Linked DNA regions of Homo sapiens: region 1 is linked to region 2. Evidence: fine-mapped expression QTL. A gene starts in region 2. The other region holds a variant in brackets. All regions are shown on one strand. Distances are from middle to middle.

Evidence for each region.
Region 1: its variant is fine-mapped to the expression of NPEPL1 in testis (GTEx, PIP 0.95).

The regions. Positions count from the first base shown.
Region 1 is chr20:59,570,607-59,575,968 of GRCh38, reverse strand. No RefSeq gene overlaps it. Among named protein-coding and RNA genes, the nearest start is that of PHACTR3, 31 kb to the left of the region's middle. RefSeq lists an enhancer at 3,338-3,879. The variant A/TA (reference allele first, on the strand shown) is at 3,074.
Region 2 is chr20:58,690,437-58,695,798 of GRCh38, reverse strand. It overlaps NPEPL1 (aminopeptidase like 1), which reads right to left and starts at 2,999. Exons shown (of 12, transcript NM_024663.4): 1 at 2,749-2,999; 2 at 1,877-2,062; 3 at 1,207-1,377. The coding sequence starts at 2,898. It overlaps STX16-NPEPL1 (STX16-NPEPL1 readthrough (NMD candidate)), which reads right to left. Exons shown (of 23, transcript NR_037945.1): 9 at 4,572-4,765; 10 at 4,237-4,394; 11 at 4,019-4,075; 12 at 1,877-2,062; 13 at 1,207-1,377. RefSeq lists enhancers at 813-1,420, 2,861-3,566 and silencers at 2,484-2,573, 2,594-2,673, 2,704-2,863, 2,874-3,363.

The DNA.
Region 1 (5,362 bases), 880 kb before region 2:
ACTTTAATCCTTCAGTCTCCCTGCCTGTCTTCCCCAGGCCTTTGGCTCTCCCTTCCGCAGGCCCCCTGCACTGGGTGCACACTCTGTTGGCCATACACTGCATCCCATTGAGATGATTTGTCCACCCATCTGCCCTGCCCCACACTGGGCTGGAATTTGAGAGGACAGGCATTGGTCCTGGTCACTCAGGGACCATGTGTTTTGCAGGCTTTGTCCCACTCTGCTGGGAATAGCATTTCCATTTCCTGCTGGAAGCCTCCTTCCCCACTCTGTGGACCCAGGGCCCCTCCCTAATTCCAGGGGAGGGCTCATGACCTAGTCCAACCAACCAGCATAGATCATCCACCTGACCTCAGGGGCTGGGCCAGAAAAGTTGGTTCACAGAGGCACACATTTGGGACTTTGCTGGACTGGGAGAGAGAAGCCCATGTTATCCACTAGTCCTGAGAAGGATGGTCTGAACGTCCAGGGCCATTACATGGCTCAGAATCAAAAGAACACAGAAGAGGGAGGAGCCTGGACAGGGAGGTATCAGGGGCTGCTGGCATTGTCCGTGTGAGCAGCTGGTTCCAGCTGTGCCCGAAGGCAGCCCTATGGAGGACTGGAATTTTCAGTCCCACCCTCCTTGCCATTTCCTTTTCTCCCTAGCCTTGGTGGGGAAGAGGTCACTGGAGGAAAGAGTTAGGAGACAGAAATGTTAGCATGAAGACAAATTCGAGGTGTGCTAGGAAAGGTCTCTCTTTCTGCCGGCCCTGCCGCCTGTCCACGGGCCAGAGCCTTCGTGGCCCCTGATCTGTTTGCACATGGATCTATTGGTGACCTACAGAATGGGGCTTCACATGGCAGCCCTCTCAAGTACACACTACCAAGGACGCTGACTAACCCCGTCTGAGGCCAGCAGACACTGTTGGCCTCCTTAGGTGTGGCCTGGGTTGGGCCTTTTGAACTCTGAGCAGGTTTCTTCAGAAGAGGATGCAGAGGGGAAGATGAAGCCTAATCATTCATCCTCACTAAACACTTCCGATGCGCCAGGACCTGTGCTAAACACTCCATCTGCTTTATCCCAGTTCATCTTCACAAAAATCTAAAGACAGCATTATTCATTATCCCTAAGAAAACTGAAGCTCTCAGAGGCTCCCCGAGGCCCTGCTGCTAATATTAGGACAAGCCAAGCTCCAGGCCTCGTAACTGGACTCCAGGACCTGTGCGCTTCACCAGAGCCACATCACCCCTGGGTGCTTCTAGGGCAGAGGACAGGCTGGCCAGGCCCAGCCCCTGCAAGGAATCCAGAAGGGCTGAAGGCCACCCCATCAGCTGCTCCCTTGGGCCCAGCAGGACCCTCAGGGCCAGCCCTGTGGGTAACATCCCTTCTTTGTGAGGACCCTCCAGGGTGTCCTGAATGTCCATGGGTTGGTCTGGGCCATGGGAACACAGACCAGCAGGAGTCCTGCTGAGAGGATCCCCCTCGGCTGTAGGGCTGAAGTCTAGGACACAGCAAGGGCCATGAGGGACAAGGGGTATTGGTCTTTCCTGCAGCCACGTGCAGTGGGGCATCCACTTGGCTAAGCCACCTAGCCCCACGTTTGAGCCCCACTCACTCCAGGGACTCTTTCAGTTCCAATGGGCTGAAATCCAAGTCCTTCTGGCTGGAGCAGAAAAGGTACCCCTTGGCCACTGGAGAGACCAGGAGGAGGGGTGGTGACAGACATGGCTGAATCCGAGAGTTCCACTACCAAAGCTTCAAGGGGCCACCTCCTTCCTTGGAGCTCCAGAGAAAGCACCAAGCCGAGTTTGCTTGGACCTCCTCACAGCACCTCTCCCCAACTCTGAACTGGTCCTCGTCACTAAGGGATGGGAACTACGGGTTAGCCAGGCTGGTGGCACGGAGGAGGATGGAAGTGGGGTAGGATCAGCTCACCTGAACCTCCTCTGCTGAGGCCTGGGGAGAGGAGGTTCTCCAAAAGCTGCTTTGGTGCAGCTGCCTAGAAAGGGGGAGAGCTTGGGGCAGAGCAGACACCAGGCTCTCCACGACACTGCGCTTCCAGGCCAGGCCAGCTCCTCATGCAGAGCCCGAGTGGGGGTAAATGGCCAGAATGACTGCGATGAGAGCTGCCTGGACAGGCACAGGGCCCCAGGCTCAAAAGGGCCCAGACTTGGCTTCCCGCCCTACCACCACCACCTTGCAGCTCTTCATAATTTTTGAATAAGGGAACTGTACTTTCATTTGCATTAGACCCCTGGCAAATTCCGTAGCAGGTCATGGCTGTGAGTGACCTCCCTGGACACACACCAACCCAACAGCAGTGACTTGCCAGGTTCACTGTATCTGTCTATGCTGGGAGTTTCTTCAGCATCCTTATGACCCGCAGGAACCAGCTAGGATACCTTCACAACGTTTTCCCTGCAGGCATGGAGTGAGGACTAGGGGTGATTTCCTGTAAGCCTATAAAACCCGGTTGCCCTGCAACTTGTGGACAAGTGAGACTTGAGTTCATGGAACCCAGTGTATGTATATATGATACAGACCTCTGTGTGTACAACATCACAGCTCGGAATGACCCAAAGCTTTCTCAGTGTTGGTTGGCAATGTACCTGAGCTCCACAGGGTCACTAGGCTGCCTCAAGGATCAGTAAGAGTGCTGCAATTGATTGGCAATGTCTGATAAGGGCAAGGGCCAGCAGAGTGGGGCATGGGTGCTACATAGTTACCAATCTTTCTGCTGTCTGGGAGGAAATGAGGACTCTGCTTCTAAGAGCTAGAACACTTAAAGAACATGTTGGGGTAAAGGCTGGCTATCACTGAGGGCAGAGACTGTGTGTAATCACCATTCAAAATCCCCAGTACCACACAGACTTCGGTTCATGGTAGATGCTCAATAAATAATTAATAAAGAAAGATCTAAAAGGCACCACAAAGATGAGGTTTTACCATAAAATGATGAAAATGGTTTGGAACAGGTAGAAGTAGTGGGCGCACAGCATTGTGAATGTCCTAAATGCCACTGAATTGTTCACTTTAAAAGGGCTAATTTGGTATTACACAAATATCACCTCAAATAATTATTTTTTTTTA[A/TA]AAAAAAGGAAAGGGTGGCTTATGCCTATAACCCCAGCTGCTCAGGAGGCTTCAAGCTTCAACTCGCTTGAAGCCAGGAGTTCAAGACCAGTCTGGGCAACATAGCGAGACCTCATCTCTACAAAAAATTTAAAAAGTAGTTGGGTTTGGTGGCGCAAGGCTGTGGTCCCAGCTACTCAGGAGGATTGCTCGAGCCCAGGAGTTTGAGGCTGCAGTGAGCCATGACATGCCACTGCACTTCAGCCTGGGCAGCAGAGCAAAACCCCATCACTAAAAATCATAAACACATAATTAAAAAATAAACTAAAATAAAGGAAAGAAATCCTCCTTTTAAAAAAAGCCACTGTAAGTTACTCAGAGTGACTGGAATGATCCCATCTTCTTCATCATTATCATTCCAGTACAGTGCAGTACAGTCTTTTCTTTTATAATAAAAATCAATGACACGTTTGCCTTCTCTCCACACACACAAATTTTCCCTCCAAATCTTCCAGGGGCACTGACCCTAGAGGAGAAGACACTCAGCCCCTCTAAGCAGCCCCTGGGCTGCACCCCGGGGGCCCCAGGACGCAAGACACCCAGACCTGGGCCTGACCCCAGAAGAATTCTCCGTGAGCGGCCTGCATCCCCTCATCCCAGGCTCCATCCCGCATCCCTGCTCTTGTTCCTTTCTCCTTGCGTCATCCCCGTCTCTCTGGGTCCCCGAGGTCGCAGCTGCTGCTGAATTTTGTGAATCGCTCTAAACTGCCTTAAATCCTCTTTGAGTCACGTGGCAGATATCCAGGAGCGACGGCTGTTTTTTCTGGGGCAGGCGCTGTGGACTGTGGGCTGGGCTTGTCCTGGCAGCGTTTCCACCCTGCCTCAGGGACCCCTAACCCTGGGCTTCTCAGCATCTTGTAGGAGGGGACACAGGTCCAAGGTCCCCCGGGCTGTGGGAGACGCCTTGCAAGGCCAGACCCTCGGCGGAGCTCTGCCTCCAGCTGTAGGATTCTCAACCGCTCTCTCCTTCGTCAGCGTGCTGACTGAAGTTAGGAGTCTGAGCGGTCCACTTCCCCCTGGGAAGCCCGGGGTGGGTTTCTGGATCAGCTCTGCCGGCAGCACTGGGGAGAAGCGGGCAGAAACCTTGGGTATTTATTTCCTGGAATCTGCAACCCAGGGAGGATCCAGACGCCCTCTAGTGGCCACTAGGACGGGTGCAGGCGAGCCTGCCCAACTCTCCCCAATTCTGGTGGGTGGGAGGTGCCCCTGCTAGGGGTTCTCTGATGTGGGGGCTGTGGTCAAAGGAGCCTGCAGCGGAGGCATGCAGGTGCTGGATCCCTTTGAGCTTTCTAAAATTCATCCAGTTTTTCATTCTAGTCAACATGTGTCTATATTCTTTTCATACACATCACTTTCTCACCAAACAGTTAAGTAAAAATCAATGCTCTGGAAGATGCACGGTGTGTACCCAGGGGCTTCAAGGGCCACTTCCGAGCACCCCAGGGTACCCACCCTGCAGCATGGCCCAGAGCCTCCTGTGAAGAGCTATGGCCTGTGCCGGGCAGGACTCTGCTCTCCCCACTCCCTGGTCCTGTCCCAATTCCCCGTCCTTGCCCCGATGCTTCTCACTTCTCTGACAGTCACCTGCTGAATTCAGGTGTGGGTCTAAGCTGCTTTGAACCGTCTTTGACACATTGTGGGACTATCCATAAATTGTTAAAAACAAATCGTCAGCATGTAAAATGGTGCAGCTGCCTTGGGAAACAGTCTAGCAATTCCTCGAAAAGCTAAACATCAAGTTGCCATATGACCGAGCAATTCCACTTCCAGGTATGTACTCAAGAGAACTGGAAATATTTTTCCCCAGAAAAGCAAGTGCATGGCTGTTCATAGCAGCATTCACCATAATAGTCAAAAAGTGGAAGCAACTCAAATATCTGTCAGCTAATGAAAAAGTCAGGGGTAGTACCCTAGTCCCTCAGTACCCATGGGGGGTTGATTACAGAACACCCAGGGATACCAAAATCCACAGATGCTCAATTTCTTTATATGAAATAGTGTACTACTTGCTTATAAGCTACATACATCCTCTTGTATCCATTAAATCAGGGATATCCAATCTTTTGGCTTCCCTGGACCGCATTGGAAGAAGAATGGTCTTGGGCCATACACAAAATACACTAACGATATCTGATGAGCTAAAAAGAAATTGAAAAAAAAAACCTTTCATAATGTTTTAGGGAAGTTTATGAATTTGTGTTGGGCTGCATTCAAAGCTGTCCTGGGTCACATGTGGCCCACGGGCTGCCC
Region 2 (5,362 bases):
AAGCAAGGCAAACCAGTTAGACTTTTTTAAAAGCTCAGAGACGAAGGGAAAAAAGGGGAGCTATCTCATGCTGGTGAAGATGGAAGAATTTGGGTTGAGGGGCAGTGGTTACAGGCCTCAGAGAGCACACAGTGAAAGAAATGAGGTGTGGCCCAAGTGCTGATGTGGGAGAGCTTGCCTGGGTGAAGGCGACAGCCTTCCAGAGCCAGAAGTGAAGAATGAGCGCTGACACATGAGAAAAGACAACCTGGGTGGCGCTGTGGGCTCGGGGACTGGAGGTGGCAGGCGCAGAGGCTGGGACCGCTGCCGTGGGGACAGGAGCCTGATGTCAGGCCCATCCAAGGATCTGGAGCTGGGAAATCACTTCCGGCCTTGCAGCCTCAAAAGGATCATTCTCAGCATTGAGTGAAATAACACATGTAGAAGTGCTCCCTGTAAAGGGTGCAGCAACACACATGCACACACACCACACACACACCACTCATGCACACACTAGCACTCATACACACACAGCAACACACACAACACACACACACACCACTCATGCACACACCAGCACTCATACACACAGCAACACATGCTGCTCATGCACACACCAGTACTCACACACAACAACACACACCACACATGCACACACCACACATGCACACCACACACACACACCACTCATGCACACACCAGCAAACACACACACACAGCAACACATACCACACGTACACCACACACACCACTCATGCACACACCAGCAAACATACACAGCAACACATACCACACACACACACACATCACACATGCACACACACACCCCCCACACATACAACACATGCACATACACTCATACACGCACAGCAACACACATGTGCACGCACATACACACACACGTGCATACATCACACACGTGCACACGGAGCTCACATAAACGGGCAGGGTTATTTGGAAAACAGCATGGACGTTCCTGGCACTGATTACGTGCTCAACAAACACTGCCTGTATACAACAGAATCCTGAAGTCACAGACCACGCTGAGGCAGAGGCAGGGGGCCTGGGTTTGGAAAAGCCTCTGCCGCTTCCCAGGAACCAAAGCTCCTGGGAAGGGCAGGAACCCCCTCCTGCCCCCGCAACAAGCTTTTCCCTCTCCCGACCTCCCTCCCACCTGCCCGATCTTGCCCGGGCCCAGGGGCAGTGTCTGCCCTTCCAGACACCCACCTGCAATGTGGACACCTCCACCGGCCCGTTGTCTTGTCCCACCAGGAAAAACTCCACGGTGACCGTCTTCTTCTCCAAGCGCCGAGAGGCACCTGAGCGGTGGGTGAACAGCGGGAAGGCCCGGGCCAGGGCACAGGCGGAAGCAAAGACCTCCGGCTGCTCGCAGACCATCTGTGGCACATAGGGAGACGGCGTGAGGGGTGCAAGGGCCGCCACCAGGGAGTGCAGGGAGCTGCTCTTTGAACGCCTCCGGAACATCAGCTCCCTGGCAGGTGACATCTAGACAGAGATGTCCCACAGCAGCCGCCACCCCATCCCTCAGGTCATCCCCGGAACCATGGGACCACCATTGGTCATGCTCCAAGAGAAATAACACATTGGCCACCAGATGTCAACAGCCTGACCAGCCATGAAAATGAGGGACAGAGGGACAGACACAAAGTGGGCCTCAGGAAATCTAGGTTTGAGTCTCTGATTTGCCACCAAAACTGATCTGGGGCAAATCCCCGCGTCTCTCTGGACCTGTTTCCCTGTCTACAGAGCAGGGATGATAACGTCCACAGCCCTCTGGGCGTGCGCTGCAGTCTGAGCAGGGCTGTGAGCTCCCCAGGCCCGAGCTCACCGCTGCCCGACTAGGAGCACCGTGGCTGCCTCCTCTCGAAGCACTCACCACAATGCAGCGATGCGCTCCGGGCGGCAGGCAGGTCCGCACCAGCCGCGTGATGAAGTGGGCGGCCGAGGGGCTGTTGTGCCGGCTCACCCTGCAGGGCAGGGCAGCCACGGTGGCGTAGTTCAGGTAGAGGGGACAGCTGTCCGTGGGGTTGGGGTTGAGCGTGCTCAGGGCAGCCTGCCAGAGCTAGATCAGAAGGGAGAGACAAGACACAGAGGCTTCAAACAGCGGCCACGTGCCAGGAGGCCCTGCCCTGCAGCCACGGCCACAACCACTCCTGCAGTCCTGGAAGGGCACTGCGCAGCTCCCGGCCACCGTTTTCCCATCCTTAGGGAGATGTGTCGCCTCTCTGCAGAGCTAACTGTCTCTAGGCTGGCTCGCATCCCCCTGGTGGGATGAAGCCACCAAGCCTGGAAGGGCCAGGCTGGGGGCTGCTTTGCTTCCAACACTCGGATAGGGCTTAGGCGGCTTCCACCAGAGAGGGGGCAGGGGCCAGGTGTCCCCAAGGAAAGGCAGCTGGGGACACTGCCATGGGAACTTCTGGAAGCCAGGGCCTGTCGCCAGGCGGGGCCGACGCGCGGCCCTGGGAGCGGCCACGTCTCCCCCCCCGCCGTCCGCAGGTGTCGCGGCCTCGCGGGGCGCAGGGCTGGGCTGACAGGAGGACCACCGCGCCGCACCGGCGACGGGGCCTGGGGCTGGGCCTCCGCGGGCGAGGACTGGCCTGGCGGCTGAGCCCTTCAGGGAGGCGGCCCGGCCTCGTTGGGCCCGGCCCGGCGGCGGCGGGGGTGCGGCGGGCGAGGCGGGGCCTCCGCGGGCCGCCCGGGCCTGGGCTTCCGCGGCGCGGGTCGCATGGCGGCCGGCGGCCCGCTCACCTCCTCGGTGACCCGGGGCTGCAGCTTCCCGCGGACGTGGCTCCAGGGCACGCGGTGCAGGTGGTGCAGCTGCCCGAGCAGCAGCAGGGGCCGGCTCTGTGGGTCCGAGTCCCCCGCGCTCGCCTGGAACTGCAGCCCCACGTTCGCCATCTTCCTGCCGGCCCACGCCCCGGCCCTGCCCGGCCCGGCCCGGCCCGCCGCTCGGCCCCCTTCGCCCCGCTCCGGCCCGGCCTCGGCACCGCCCCGGCCCTGCCCGGCAGCCCGCGGGCCCCGCCTCCCCCGCCGCTCCGGGCTGCTCGCGAGACGTGCAGGGCCCGCCCGGGGCGCGAGGGGGCGCCGGCCAGGCCGGGCGGAAGGGTGCGGGCAGGCCCGGCCGGGCAGGCCCGAAGCCGGCCCCGAGCAGGCCCTGCCGAGTAGGGCCCGCGCGCCCGGCCTCCAGCGGCGCCGCCCCTGGGCCTAGCGGCCCTGCCCAACACGCGGGGCGACGTGGCCCGCCAGGCAGCGCCTCCCGGACGGGCCTGGCCTCCAGTGGGGCCTGGGCCGACGTAGGCCCAAGCCCACCCGACGCAGTTCCGCCCGGTCAGGCCTCAGGCTGGCCCCAAGCAGGTCCCCCGAGGTCCCTTAGCAGCTGCTTTTGATCCCCAGGGACCCCGCACCCTGGCCACCCATCAGTTAGGCCGGAGGGGCCCAGTGACTCTTGGACCTGAGTCAGGTCCTTTTGTCCCACTGCCTGGCATGGTGGGTACAGCGTGGACGGTCACTTCCTCCTCACTTAATCGGAGGTTCCCTGGCGTTTATCAGACCCCGCTCTGCCAGGCACTGCCCTGGATGTGAGAGGGTGACAGGGACGTGGCTTTCCATCCAGGGCACTGCTGCTGGGATGGCCAGTTACAAATCCAGGCACTGCCTGGCTGCATGGGGGGCCTTCCCGCCCACCCCTTTGCAAGAAGGGTCATCTGGCACAGTCTAAGCAGGAAAGGAGGGACGAGATGAGACGAGGAAGGAGCAGGGTGACCTGAGTCACCTCAGTCGCCTTACAGGGGAGGAAAGGCCATCGGGGGTGTGGGGCAGGAGCCGGGTGGTGGAGGAGCCAGGGGTGAGCCTTGAGTGGATGGTGGAGGCGGAGGGTCCCACCCACAGGGTCAGATGCAAGGGTCAGGGAATGACGATGCATTGGGGAAGCTCCACCCAGGAGTCATTTAAAAGCAAAAATCTGTTACCCAACATCCTGATTGCTCAAGGGCCTTTGGTTGGTACCCTCCTCTGTTACCTCCATGTAGTTCCATAAGCCACTCCTGTTATTTTGAGTTTCTTCTTCATAACCAGCCTAAAAATGAAAAAAAAAAAAAAAAAAAAAGAAAAGAAAAAAAGAAAAAAAAGCACTGTCAACTCCCTGGCGTGGTGTGAGAGGTTTTCCACCACTGACCTCCCAGCTGGCCCCCTAGCTCCCTAACTTGTAGCCCCGGGAGCCACAAGCCAGGCTTTCACCTTCCCTGTCCACAGGCTCCAGGTCTGTCTGCTCAGCTCTGAGCCATGGTCCCTGGCCCCTTGGAAACACCACAGACTAGAGCTTCAGCATCCTGAAGGCAGGTCTTTTTGACTTTTTGTTGTTTTTTTTTCCTCCAGTTCCTGGCACAGAGCAGGCACTCAAAAAAAAAAAAAAAAAAAAAAAAAAAAAAAAAAAAAGCTGTTGAATGACTGAAAGGCATTCCTTTGAAACCCTCAGCTTTCCCGACATAAAAGTCAACGCTAATTGGATCTTATTTTCTTCAAAAGATTTTACAGCAGCTGAATGTTTTCACACATTGGTAAAGGGTACTAACAGTGTGTATGAAGATCTCTCACTCTTTTTTCTGTTTGCAAATACGTTGCAGACAGGCACACGGCACTCCAGAGGACTGAGACAGCTGGAGGATCTTCCTAGAGGGTGAGAGACTAAGGCCATGCCCTGACAGATGTAATAGGACTTCCACAGGCGAAGAGATTGAGAAAGAAGGCCTTCCACGTGGGAGAAGTCCTGGGAGGAAACACAGACGCAGAATATGTCCAGCAGGCTCTGAAACCTGTGTGGTTAGAACAGAAGGTTCCTGGAAAATAGGAGTGGGTGAGGAGATCGACTGGGGAGCCTGGCTCACTCTATAGAATTTTGCAAACTGAAGAGGGATCCAAGAAGCATTTCAGAAAGCCAGATCTAGCAGGTTTGTGTACAAGGAGTTGGAAATGAGATAAACTGTTGGTGGAGAGGTCATTTTGGAGATGTTTTTCTTTTAGAATTCTTTCATATTTAAGAATAGACTGAATAACCCTGACAGTCCCCAGAAAGGATGAACAAAATGATTCAATTCAACCAACATTTGTTGAGCACTTAGTGTACACAAAGCAAGAGAAAACGTTAGATGCTTGTTAAAAGCAAATATTGGTGATTCTGGTTTTAAGCCACCCCCGAATTGAAGAAATCCAAACTAAACAGAACGCTAAGGAATTATTCCACTTCAAATGCCTGCCAATTTCCTCAAGATTCAGCTTGTGACAGATACAAATACATTCCAGGAAAGTACTTTCCCTTTTTCACTGCTGACTTTACAGACTTTAACATAAATAAGACAGGCAGCAC